2 separate regions of the Homo sapiens genome follow, and region 1 is linked to region 2. The links come from fine-mapping of genetic effects on gene expression. A gene starts in region 2. The other region holds a variant in brackets. All regions are shown on one strand. Distances are between the middles of the regions.

Evidence for each region. PIP is the estimated chance that this variant, and not a neighbour inherited with it, causes the effect. A credible set is the group of variants that fine-mapping cannot tell apart.
Region 1: its variant is the best candidate, but not a certain one, in a credible set for the expression of ATP6V0E2-AS1 in nasal epithelium (TOPMed, PIP 0.53).

What each region holds. Positions count from the first base shown.
Region 1 is chr7:149,985,260-149,990,634 of GRCh38, reverse strand. It overlaps a transcript of ACTR3C not described here. Among named protein-coding and RNA genes, the nearest start is that of ATP6V0E2, 110 kb to the right of the region's middle. The variant A/G (reference allele first, on the strand shown) is at 2,125.
Region 2 is chr7:149,870,987-149,876,344 of GRCh38, reverse strand. ATP6V0E2-AS1 (ATP6V0E2 antisense RNA 1) reads left to right here and starts at 2,483. Exons shown (of 4, transcript NR_027040.1): 1 at 2,483-3,121; 2 at 4,549-4,703. It overlaps ATP6V0E2 (ATPase H+ transporting V0 subunit e2), which reads right to left and starts at 2,376. Exons shown (of 4, transcript NM_145230.4): 1 at 2,176-2,376; 2 at 700-747. The coding sequence starts at 2,279. RefSeq lists silencers at 1,940-2,119, 2,530-2,609, 2,640-2,849 and enhancers at 2,140-2,279, 1,609-2,577.

The DNA of each region.
Region 1 (5,375 bases), 110 kb before region 2:
AACTTATGTTCATGTGTCTGCCTCACTTCTCCATGAGGGGCTCAGTTTCTTAAGAGGAGGAACAGAAAGGCTAGGTCTGGTCTCTGCATCTCCAACCGCTAGGCCAGGCGTTATATCCTTGGTGCGTGTTTATAGAATGTGATGGTAGACATGGAGTGTGGTGGGGTGAGCAGAGCAGATGTGATTGACATTCTGGTGAAAAGGCTGAGCAAACACAGGACCCACTGCTCTGTCCCTGCACTGGGCTGCGTGCTGGAGATTCAGTGGCCACTCATGCTGCTGCTGTGTTCTTGTGGAGGTAAGAGGCAGTGGGTAGAGGAGCAACAGGTGATATGTGAATGCTCCTGACTTTGTAGGAAATGGGAAAGGGGCTGATGGGTGGGGGTGCACGTGGGTGAAGGAGGTCTGGGAAGGTGTCTCTCCTGAGAAGGCAGCAGCTGGGCTGGGAATGAAGGGTGCAATGGAGCTCACTGACAACCCAGGCACAGGTGAGAGCAGGTGCAAAGTCCCTGGAGAGAAAAGAGGCTGAAAGGCTGGAGGAAAAATTGAGACCCGTGTGGGGAGGGATGGATGAAGGTTCAGATCAGGGGCCTCCGGAAGTGAGGGAAGGAGCAACGCACTGACGCCGAGTGCTTTCAAGCAGGGGAGTGCAGAGAATGGATTTCACCTTGAAAAGTGAATGTGGACCATAACAAGTGTTGGCGAGGATGTGGAGAGAAGGGAACCCTCACACAGTGTTAGAGGGAATGTGAGTTTTACAGCCATATGGAAAATAGTGTGGAGGTTCCTTAAAAAAAATCCAAAATAGAATTACTGGATGATCCAGCAATCCCACTTCTGGGTTTAGAACCAAAGGAACTGAAATCAGCTTGTCAAAGAGACATCTGCACTCCCATGCTCACTGCAGCACTGTTCTGGATGGCCAGGATATGGAAACATTCCCTGTGCTCATCCACAGATGAATGGATAAGAAACGTGTGGTGTATGCACACAATGGAATACTATGCAGCCTTAAAAAAGCAGGAGAGTCTGTCAATTGTGACAACATGAATGAACCTGGAGGACATTGTGTTAAATGAAATAAACCAGGCACAGAAAGACAAATACCACATTATGTCACTTGTGTAGAATCTTAAAAAGTCAAAATTACAGAGGCAGAGACTAGCTCAGGGATGGTTGGGGGTGGGTTGGGGAGATGTTGGTACAAGGATATAAAATTTCATTGGACAGGAGGCATAAGTTTTTGAGATCAATTGCACAACATGGTGACTATATTTAATAATGTAAAGTATGTTTCAAAAATTGCTAAGAGAGTAGATTTTAAATATTTGTACCACACACCCACAAACATAAGTCTGTGAGGTGATATATATGTTAACTATCTTGATATAAGCATTCCATATGTGTATATGTATATCAAAACATCATGATGGACCCCATGAATATATGCAATTATTATTTGTCAGTTTTAAACATTTTTTTTAAATGAACATGGAGGTTGGGGAACCTTACCAGGGTTCTTTTGGTCTCTGCCTTGCCTGGGGCCCAGAAGTGGTGGTGAGGGGTTGCTCCCTACTCTGGAGCTCTGGATGCTGATCAGAGACCCTCCATGCCTGGTGACATCTCAGACTCAGTGAACAGCCTCAGGGGCCCTTCACAAAACTGGGCTGTCAGGGCCACCTGGAGCTCAGAGTGGTAATTTGGTTTCATTTGAACTTCAATTTTCGTTGCTTTGAAATCTCATTCAGTTGAATTTAATAACAAATAAATAATTCATGGGGACTGGACAATGAAAGGAAAATTTAAAAATGTGTTCACCCAAATATATAAAGGGGCACCTTGTCCCTCAGCCCTGTTCTCTACCTTCTTTTCTCAGCTGGCTTCTGGGCAGATTCATGGGGCCAAAGGATGATGCATTAACTCTCTCAGGGTGCTGAGGGTTCTCTCATCATGAGACTTCTGTGGGTTAGGGACTGGGCAAGAGGTGAGCAAGTATCCCACCTCTGGCAGGCCAGCCTCTCAGCCACCAATTTGCTAAGTGGCCCAACGGTCATCTCTGAGCCTTCTTTCCTTGCTTGTAAAATGCAGAAATCTTTAGTAAACCAATTGATGTAGGCAAATGTC[A/G]TGAATGGATACACAGTCATCTCAGGGAATTTACATGGTGCTAAAGTATCACTCCAGGGATCATCTGCTGGTTGCAAGGGGAGAAATGTGACTTTATCCTGGAGAACACCGATGCTCTCCGCCTTATCAATTCCTGCATCCCTAACACTGGGACAAGCAGATATCCTTCCATGCCCCATGCGGTGCTTAGCATCACCTGTGAGGTAATGCCAGAAATGTGTGAGCTGAACTTAATCAAGCTCTTAGGTCTAACTTTCAGTGCGTAACTAATACAGGCTGCAGAGCGTCCAGCTAATGCACACCAGGAGGAAACAGCCAGACAAATCCAGAAGGTGGAAACGTGGAGGCAACAACTCGCCCATTCCTTCCAGCAAGCCAGCAATGTGCGGTGGGCTGGGGAGCCACTGGGGCAGACACGTTCTAAGTTGAAATATACGTTACCACCAACCAAGGGCAATTCCTGGGCCTTGGCTAAATCCTTACCTATACAAACCAGCTATACCAGTCATTTTAGAGTAATTGGGGAAGTTATTACATGAGATTAGAAAATTGTATTCAGTTTTTAAGTGTGAAAATGTTCTTTTTCTTTTTTAAAAAAGCTTTTATTTTAGGTTCAGGGGCACATGTGCAGGTTTGTTATATAGATAAGCTTATGTCATGGGGGTTTGTTGAACAGATTCTTCTTAATTATACAGGAAAACGTCTAGAACTTGTGGTCTCTCTTCTTTAGCGTTGCTCACTGAGATTTTTTAAAAAGATGCATCCTGAATGATTTCGAGGCATGATGTTTTGGTACCTGTATGCAATTGAAATAATTTTTAAAATAGATATGGAGAAAATATGAAAACTAACAATTTTCAAAATTTTAATGAGGAGCATATGAAAATTATACTCTAGTATGCTGTTACTTTTCTTTTCTTTTTTTATTTTTTATTTTTTCTTTTTTGAGACAGTCTTGCTCTGTCGCCCAGGCTGGACTGCTGTGGCACAATCTCAGTTCATTGCAACCTCTGCCTCCCAGGTTCAAGTGATTTTCCTGTCTCAGCCTCCTGAGTAGCTGGGATTATGGGGCACCCACCACCATGCCCAGCTAATTTTTGTATTTTTAGTAGAGATAGGGTTTCACCATGTTGGCCAGGCTGGTCTGGAACTCCTGACCTCAAGTGATCCACCCGCCTCAGCCTCCCAAAATGCTGGGATTACAGGCGTGAGCCACAGCGCCTGGCCGCTGTTAATTTTCTAATCTTTAAAAATAATAATAGTTTTTTAAAAAGCTGCTCACAAAGATTTTATTGATGATGTGTGCATTTTTTTTTCCTCTGGTAGGACATAATTCTCCCTGAGAAGGGGAAAGACAGTAAGAATTTTGTGAGTTGCATAATAGTCCATTGATTACCCTTTGTCCCCCAGTGGAGGGCACTAAACCCCTGAAGAAGCAGGCCCCTGTGTGGGCGTGTTATGATTGTAGAACAAGGAGAGGGGACCCTCCAGTACTCAGTGTCTTTAGTGGGTGGGGCGGGGGCTTCAAGGCAGTAGCCTCAGATACCTGCGGGGCCCATGCAGGGAACCCTAATTGGGGTGCAGGGTGGGGGAGCAACAGAATGCAAAATAGCTCTTAGTACCTTACCTAAATATTGGTTGCTAGATTTTTTCATTGACTGGAAGCTTTCATTTGGCTCTGGATAGAAGTGTGGGCAGTCACACAAGTCAAGGTAAGAGGGGTGGAAACTGGTTTTTGCTGGTGCTTCCTAACATTTGTCAACTGTGGCTTTCAGGCTACCAATGGGTGGGGAGTTTTGTGCGAGAAAATGGGCCAGATTTGCATCCTGGTGTTCTCCAAATGATGTTAAATGCAGAAACATTCAATGCAATGAGTTTGTTCAATTCCATCCAACTAAAAATTGTGTTTGTGCTATTAGTGCCTACCCTCTGATCAGTCTTGTACTAGGTAGGAAACATGGTGCTTACCCTTTACTAAGGAGTTGTGTTACACGAAACAGAAAACACTATGACTGAATCAAAAAGAAGCATCACTCTGCTTGGGTAGTCAGGGAAGAATCTTGATTTCCCCTGGAATCTGGTACTTACCTCGCGGTGAATACACAATAACAGCCAGAGTTTTAAAATAGACAAGAAGGACAGAAATCAGAGAGAAACACACAGACACATCAGACCCCTTATCATAAGGTACAAACAGTAGAGCAGAAGGGAGACCACAAACTTCCATTCTTTATGGGATGAGCGAGAAAGGGGATGGAGGCTTTGGCAATGTTGAGTGGGTTTTCCACAGGAACAGCCAGCCCCAACTGATGTGTAGTGATTTCCTAGGAAGTTTGCAAACCTCATCCCACCAAGAGGAAATGGGTCGGGAGTTCTCCATCATCTGGAGGTCACAGAGCAGACAGACCATGGCCCAGGACAAGATCTAGAAGTTGTTATTTTATTCAAAGTCAGAAAACCTTCCAGGGTCTGGGGATCAGTGTCTGGATAGAAGAGAAAATACAAGAGAAAGCAAGAGGTTAATGTGGGCTGAAGGCTTAGAATGAGCAGTTTTAGGATAAAGGATAGTTAGGAAAGGATGGGGGATGGAGAGGAGGGTGCATGTGAGGCAGGACAAACCAAAGAGAAAGACCTGAATGTATCTGCTATGTCTGTGGGACATAGGGAGGTTCTGTTCATTCTGAATGGGGACTTCGAGCTCAAGCCTAAAAATGCATCCTTTCAAATGGGTACAGAAAGAAGGGCTTTGACAAGTACCATGGGCTGTGCTTGATTGAAAGGACAGACACATTCAGTTGTTGTTATTTGTGATTATTGTCAGCTCCATCATTGATGGCACTGTGCATTTTTTGAAGTAGGTCTCTCCCATCAAACTGCCAGGATTCCAGTGATCAGAGAGCACGTGTTCAGTAGCACAAGCTGGATTGGGTGGTGCCCACTCCCGGCTCGACCACTTAGCTCTGTGGTGCCTTGGTATCCTCATCTGTAATGTGGGGATAATAATGGTGTCTGTCTCATAAGAATGTTTTGAGAAACAAATGAGAAAACCCAAGTCAAGCTCTTCTAGAAGTGCATGGCAGATAGTAAACAGTCAATCAACATTATCAGTCCTATCACCGGTGTGGGTACTGTTGAGATACCTGTGAGAGTAAATCATGATTTATGCAAATGGTTAATGGAAAATATTTATTTTAGTTATTTTCTTATCTGGGTAGTGCCAGATGGGATAATAAAAATGAAAACAGGCAGGG
Region 2 (5,358 bases):
GAGTGCAGTGGTAAGATCTTGGCTCACCGCAACCTCCGTCTCCCGGGTTCAAGCGATTCTCCTGCCTCAGCCTCCTGAGTAGCTGGGACTACAGGCACGCGCCACCAGGCCTGGCTAATTTTTGTATTTTTAGTAGAGACGGAGTTTCACTATGTTGGCCAGACTGGTCTCGAACTCCTGACCTCGTGATCCACCCACCTCAGCCTCCCAAAGTGCTGGGATTACAGGCGTGAGCCGCCACGTCTGGCCTCTCACCTAGTGGTTCTAAGATGGCTGCATTCCAGTCACCTGGGGGCATTCATGAACAACAGGAATTCCCAAGTGCAGATCTCGAGAGTTGTAATTTCATGGGTGTAGGGTGCAGCCTGAAAACTGTGTTTGAACAATCACTCCAGGTGACCCAGTCAGGCACAGACAGCACTGAGGTGGCCTGCCTCCTTCCTTGCCCAGGTGAGAAAACTACAGCCCATGGGGGCCAGAACTCTGGGGGCAGAGCCAGATCCAGAGCCCAGGGTTCATGACTTCTGGCCCACTGCTCTCTTTCCCATTCCACACCACCTCCACTCCTGTTGTTTTATAGGTTCAGCCTTTCAAGAGGCATTTACTACCAGGACAGAAGGAAGAGCAGGCTAGGGTGAGGAGGAAAGGAGGGAGGACAAAGGAACTGGCTGACTTTGAGCTGGGGAGAGTAGTACTTACAAGAGGTAACAGCAGACGGCGGTGGCGACCAGCATGGTGATGATCACTCTGCAGCAGAAGAGGACACGGGTCAGAACAAATGCAGCCAGCACCTCACAAGGCCTGGCCAGGACCAGAGCAAGAAGAGCTCCTGGTGTGAGCTCTTTTCCATTGGCCTTCCTGATGCCTCCTGGACACAGGAGGCTGAGTTCTACTCAGGGTAAGAATAGCAAGGCAGAAAATAAAAACTGAAAGTGTCACCTCACAGAGAGGCCAACCTTGACCACATCCAAGTTGCCTTAAGAATCCTTCCCTTCATTTCCCTTCTCTACCACCCAATATTGCTCCATCTTAATGCAGACGTGTTGTGGAAAGGCACTGCACAGAGCTGCATTTGTGGCAACCCAACAGGGAGTGGTCTGTAGAATTCAAAATTCATGGAGCAAGGGGAAGGAAAACAATAGGCTAGAAGACAGGGCAAGAAGCAGGCAGACTGTGAGCCAGTTCTGAGGCCCAGTGAGTTGTTACAAAGAGAACAGGGACTAGCCACTTTGCGTGTACTCAGAGAAGACCAGAGACAGATGCTTCAAGTGCAGCAAAAGAAATTTCAGTCAAACTGAAGCAAGAACTCACCAAGAATAGCAGGAGACGCAAGACACGAAAATGGTTTACAAAGTGAAGCTGTGGGATCCCAAACCCTGCCTGTCTTTAAGAACAAAGGCAGCACTCACATGTCCAAACGGCCTTTGGGCAAAGCTAACTCTAATCCAAACGAGGCCCTTGATCTTTGATCTAAAGCACTGCAAGCTGGTGCTGGACACAGGAGCACGCGATCCCTTTTTCAACATTACTAAGCAGGTTGTGCCAGTCCTGGCTGGGCACTGAGTAGACAATGGTGAACTGGACAAACTCCAGCCCCTGGGAACATGCAGTCAAGGGAAGGGTGCTTTGTAACTGAAGATAATATGAAGCAGAAACTGGTGAATGGCGCAGCAATCTGCTAGAGGACCTTCGAAAAATAACGCCAGCTAAACTTATCCCATACCTACAAAGTGTCACGCACTGGTAGGTGTTTTAAATGCGTTACCGCAGGTCATCCTCACAGCAGCCTTTTAAGGCAGGAGTCGACATTATCTCCATTTTACCCATGAAGAAACTGAGACTTGATATTGGCTCTAGGTCACACAGCTAGCAAGGAGTGGAGAAACTGCGTCAGTGCCCACTTGTGCCCTTTACTGGCTGCAGGAGGGGTGACAGACATCTCCAATGTCACTCTCCTCTTTACCTTCTGGATATGCCCTCTCGCCCCACCTCCTGCCTGTTCCCGGCTGTCAGAGACCCAGGTGCAGAGAGACCTCAGAGGTGGCGTCCGGGGTCCTGGCGTCCCTCCTGCGGACGCTCGCTGCAGAGCAGGAAGCCGCCGCCCCGGGGCGGAGGGGCGAGCCGGGCCAGGGGGCCGGGGTGGAGAGGTCTGCAGGGCCTGCGCGCTTTCCTTACCCGCGGTTGGGTCCCTTCGGCACGAACCAGGGCCCGGCGATGCCGACGAGGCCCCAGAACGTGGTGAAGATGATGACCGGGAGGGCGAATGAGTGCGCCGTCATGGCCGGGCGCAGGATGCCCAGGCAGGATGCAGGGCCGAGCAGCGGGCGCTGCAGGTGCGCGGGTCCCCAGCCGGGCAGCGCGCTGAGCATGCGCAACAGGAGTCGAGCACCCGAAGCGATCAGCCGGGCCGGGCCGCGCACGCGCATCTCCTGATCCAGCCCGCCGCGCTGTCACTCAGGACCTGCCTAGGAGCCCACTCGCTGATTGGCTGAGCAGGGCCGCGGACAGAGAGAAATGCCGAGGAATAGGGGCGCGGCCGCCCGGTTTCGGCGATGGGTTATAGGGTCCGCGTCAGCCCCGCGCCCGCACAGCCAACGTCACGCCGCATTCTTATTTCCAAAGACCCCTGGAGCTTGGGGTCCCACCCCAGCGGTCTTTCGGGGCGTCCCCTGCCCTTCACGCGCCGCGCCGGCTCGGCCCGAAGCGCCCTGCGGACCCGCAGCCTGGGCCGCCCCGAACCTGACGGCCCCGCGGGGGTCGGACGCGGGAGGAACGGCCTCGCTTTCAGAGACGCAGCGGGAGGGCGGTCCCCGCTGTCCCTCTGGCCGGGTCCTCAGCACGCGTTCTCCTCACTCCCAGGACTAGCGAGCGGCGGGCGCGGACCGGGGCCTGGGGTCGGAGGCGGCGCAGCCAGAAAGGCCCCAGCGGCGCTGAGACGTTTGGGGGAAGGCGGGGGCTTCGCGTTTCGATGGCGGGAAGCGGAATGAGGTTGGACCGGCCGGGCCGGCGTTCAGGGACCCGGCGGGAGGCGGAGGGCTGGCGTCCTCGCGGACATCCATCTGCAGCGAACCAGGCAGAGGCTTTGGGATTAGATCCTTGACTCCTTGCGTCAGTAGTTAAGGTTTGTTTAAATATAAAATGGGATGGCCCTTCTTACAAGGTTGCTGGAGGATTAAATGAATAGGCATGTGGAAAGCACCTAGTATAATAAGGCTCGGTAGTTTCTTCCATCAGGGCTGGAAGAGACCACGGAGCCTGCTTTCCTCCTTCGGCGTTTGGATCTCACATATCCCTTCTTCTCTGGCGATCAAAAATCCCTATCTTCTGTAGAGATCCCTTTTACAGATCAGTGGCCTCCAGGCGGTATCTCTAGCAACAAGTGCTACCCCAAGCGGCCGGCCACACATATTCCCTGGCTTCATGACATAGGGAGGCGCAGTCCCCACGTGATGCAGAAGGGAAATGTGCCTGTCCTTGCACTGACCCCGTCAGCCATGTGTGCTCCTGGCTGTTTTCTGAAATCAAGAACCAGTTACATCCGCCCTTCTCCGTTCTCTAGTTGAAACCTCCCTATCCATCCTTCCAACATTCATGTAAGTTGGAGGTGGGCGTGGGATGACACCAAACTGTTAGGTATAAAATACCATCCTAGCCTTCGAGGGGTTTCTAAAGTAGTTGAGGAGTGATATATTCTGGTAAAATCATAATGCTGGACAGCGCAGTTCTAAGAGCCCTGTGATCAAAGTAGCCAAATGCCCATTATGAGAATTCAGAGGGTGGAGAAATCCAGGAAGACTCCCTGGAGGAGGTGAGATTTTAGCTGGATTGTAAACAATGGTTATTTTTCTCATCCAGAGTGTGTACATTGTTGAGAACACTGGCCTAGGATAAGGGTGCACTTGGCATCCAGGAGATAGAGTTAAGAGTATGTCCATACAGGCCTTCAAAAAATCACCACGAGGGCTGAGCGCAGTGGCTCACACCTGTAATCCCAGCACTATGGGAGGCAGAGGCGGGCGGATCACGAGGTCAGGAGATCGAGACCATCCTGGCTAACACGGTGAAACCCCGTCTCTACTAAAAATATAAAAAAATTAGCTGGGCATGGTGGCGGGCACCTGTAGTCCTAGCTACTTTGGAGGCTGAAAGGAGAATGGCGTGAACCCGGGAGGCAGAGCTTGCACTTGCAGTGAGCCGAGATTGTGCCCCTGCACTCCAGCCTGGGGGACAGAGTGAGACTCCGTCTCAAAAAAAAAAAAAAAAAAAAAATCACCACGAAAGTTCTATAGCTCAAAAAAGACGGACTTTTTGAATTTTGTTCTGGAAAAAAAAAAATCCTCTGTAGAAAATGACAGCTGTAAAGTGAAATGTATTTCCTTCTTTGCCTCTGCTCCTTTGTCTTGGCTTTGGCCAGAACCAAAAACATTGCTGAGTCTGAGCAGCCACTCATATTAGCAGCCTGCAGCTCTTACTCTTTTCCTTTAATGTCTTTGATGTTTCATTTCTGTCCTAATTTGCATGTGATTGCCTGTGTCATTTGTTTGGCAGCTTTGTGATGGTCTGAGGTCCATGAAGGGATTAAAACCAGGAACTGGCTCCTTCTCCAACCACTAAAGCCTCATCTGGGCCCACAAGCCCTGGCTGTTCCCTGGAGCGTGACTGGAAGATGTGAGCAGCTTTGTGCTGGAGCCCCATTTCCATGGGTAAACTGTTCACCTGATCAAACAGCTCCCCAGAGTTCCACAGTACCACATATTTATTTTCTAGAACTTTGTTTTTAGCTGAAAGGGATCTTAGAGGCTAAGGCAATCCTATCACTTTACAGGTGATAAAACTGAGGCCCAGAGAAGTGAAGTAACTTGCCTAGGCCCACACAGCTCATCAGTAAAAGAGCCAGAACACATGGCCGAGACTTCTCCCTAATCCAGCGTCTCCTCCACACTCCCAGCTCACCCCTAGGGTTTGTGCCCAGGCTGAGGACACTATTTTCAGAGGCACTAATGTGAGGCAAAGGGCATGTTACCAGACACAGCCCCGCCTACCCCGGTCCCCTGAGGTGGAGCTGTGCATTCCACTGGCTTCACGGTTCCCCTCTGCCCTGGCGGCTTCTGGTTGGTATTGGCGCCACCGACTGCTCTGCCATGGCTCCTCAGTGAGTGCTTTGGGTGTGATTGACAAGTTTCCATGACATCTCCCAGGGAGTGGGGTCCTGATGTTGGTGACATCTCTATCGTTCATCTTTTCATGGGGCTGATGAATTCCTAGAAAGGGTAGAAGGAGAAGGAGCCACTGAAAGAGGCTCTTTAAAACTTCCCTGAGTGTCCCCCAGTGCAAATGAACAGGAGCCCCAGGACACTT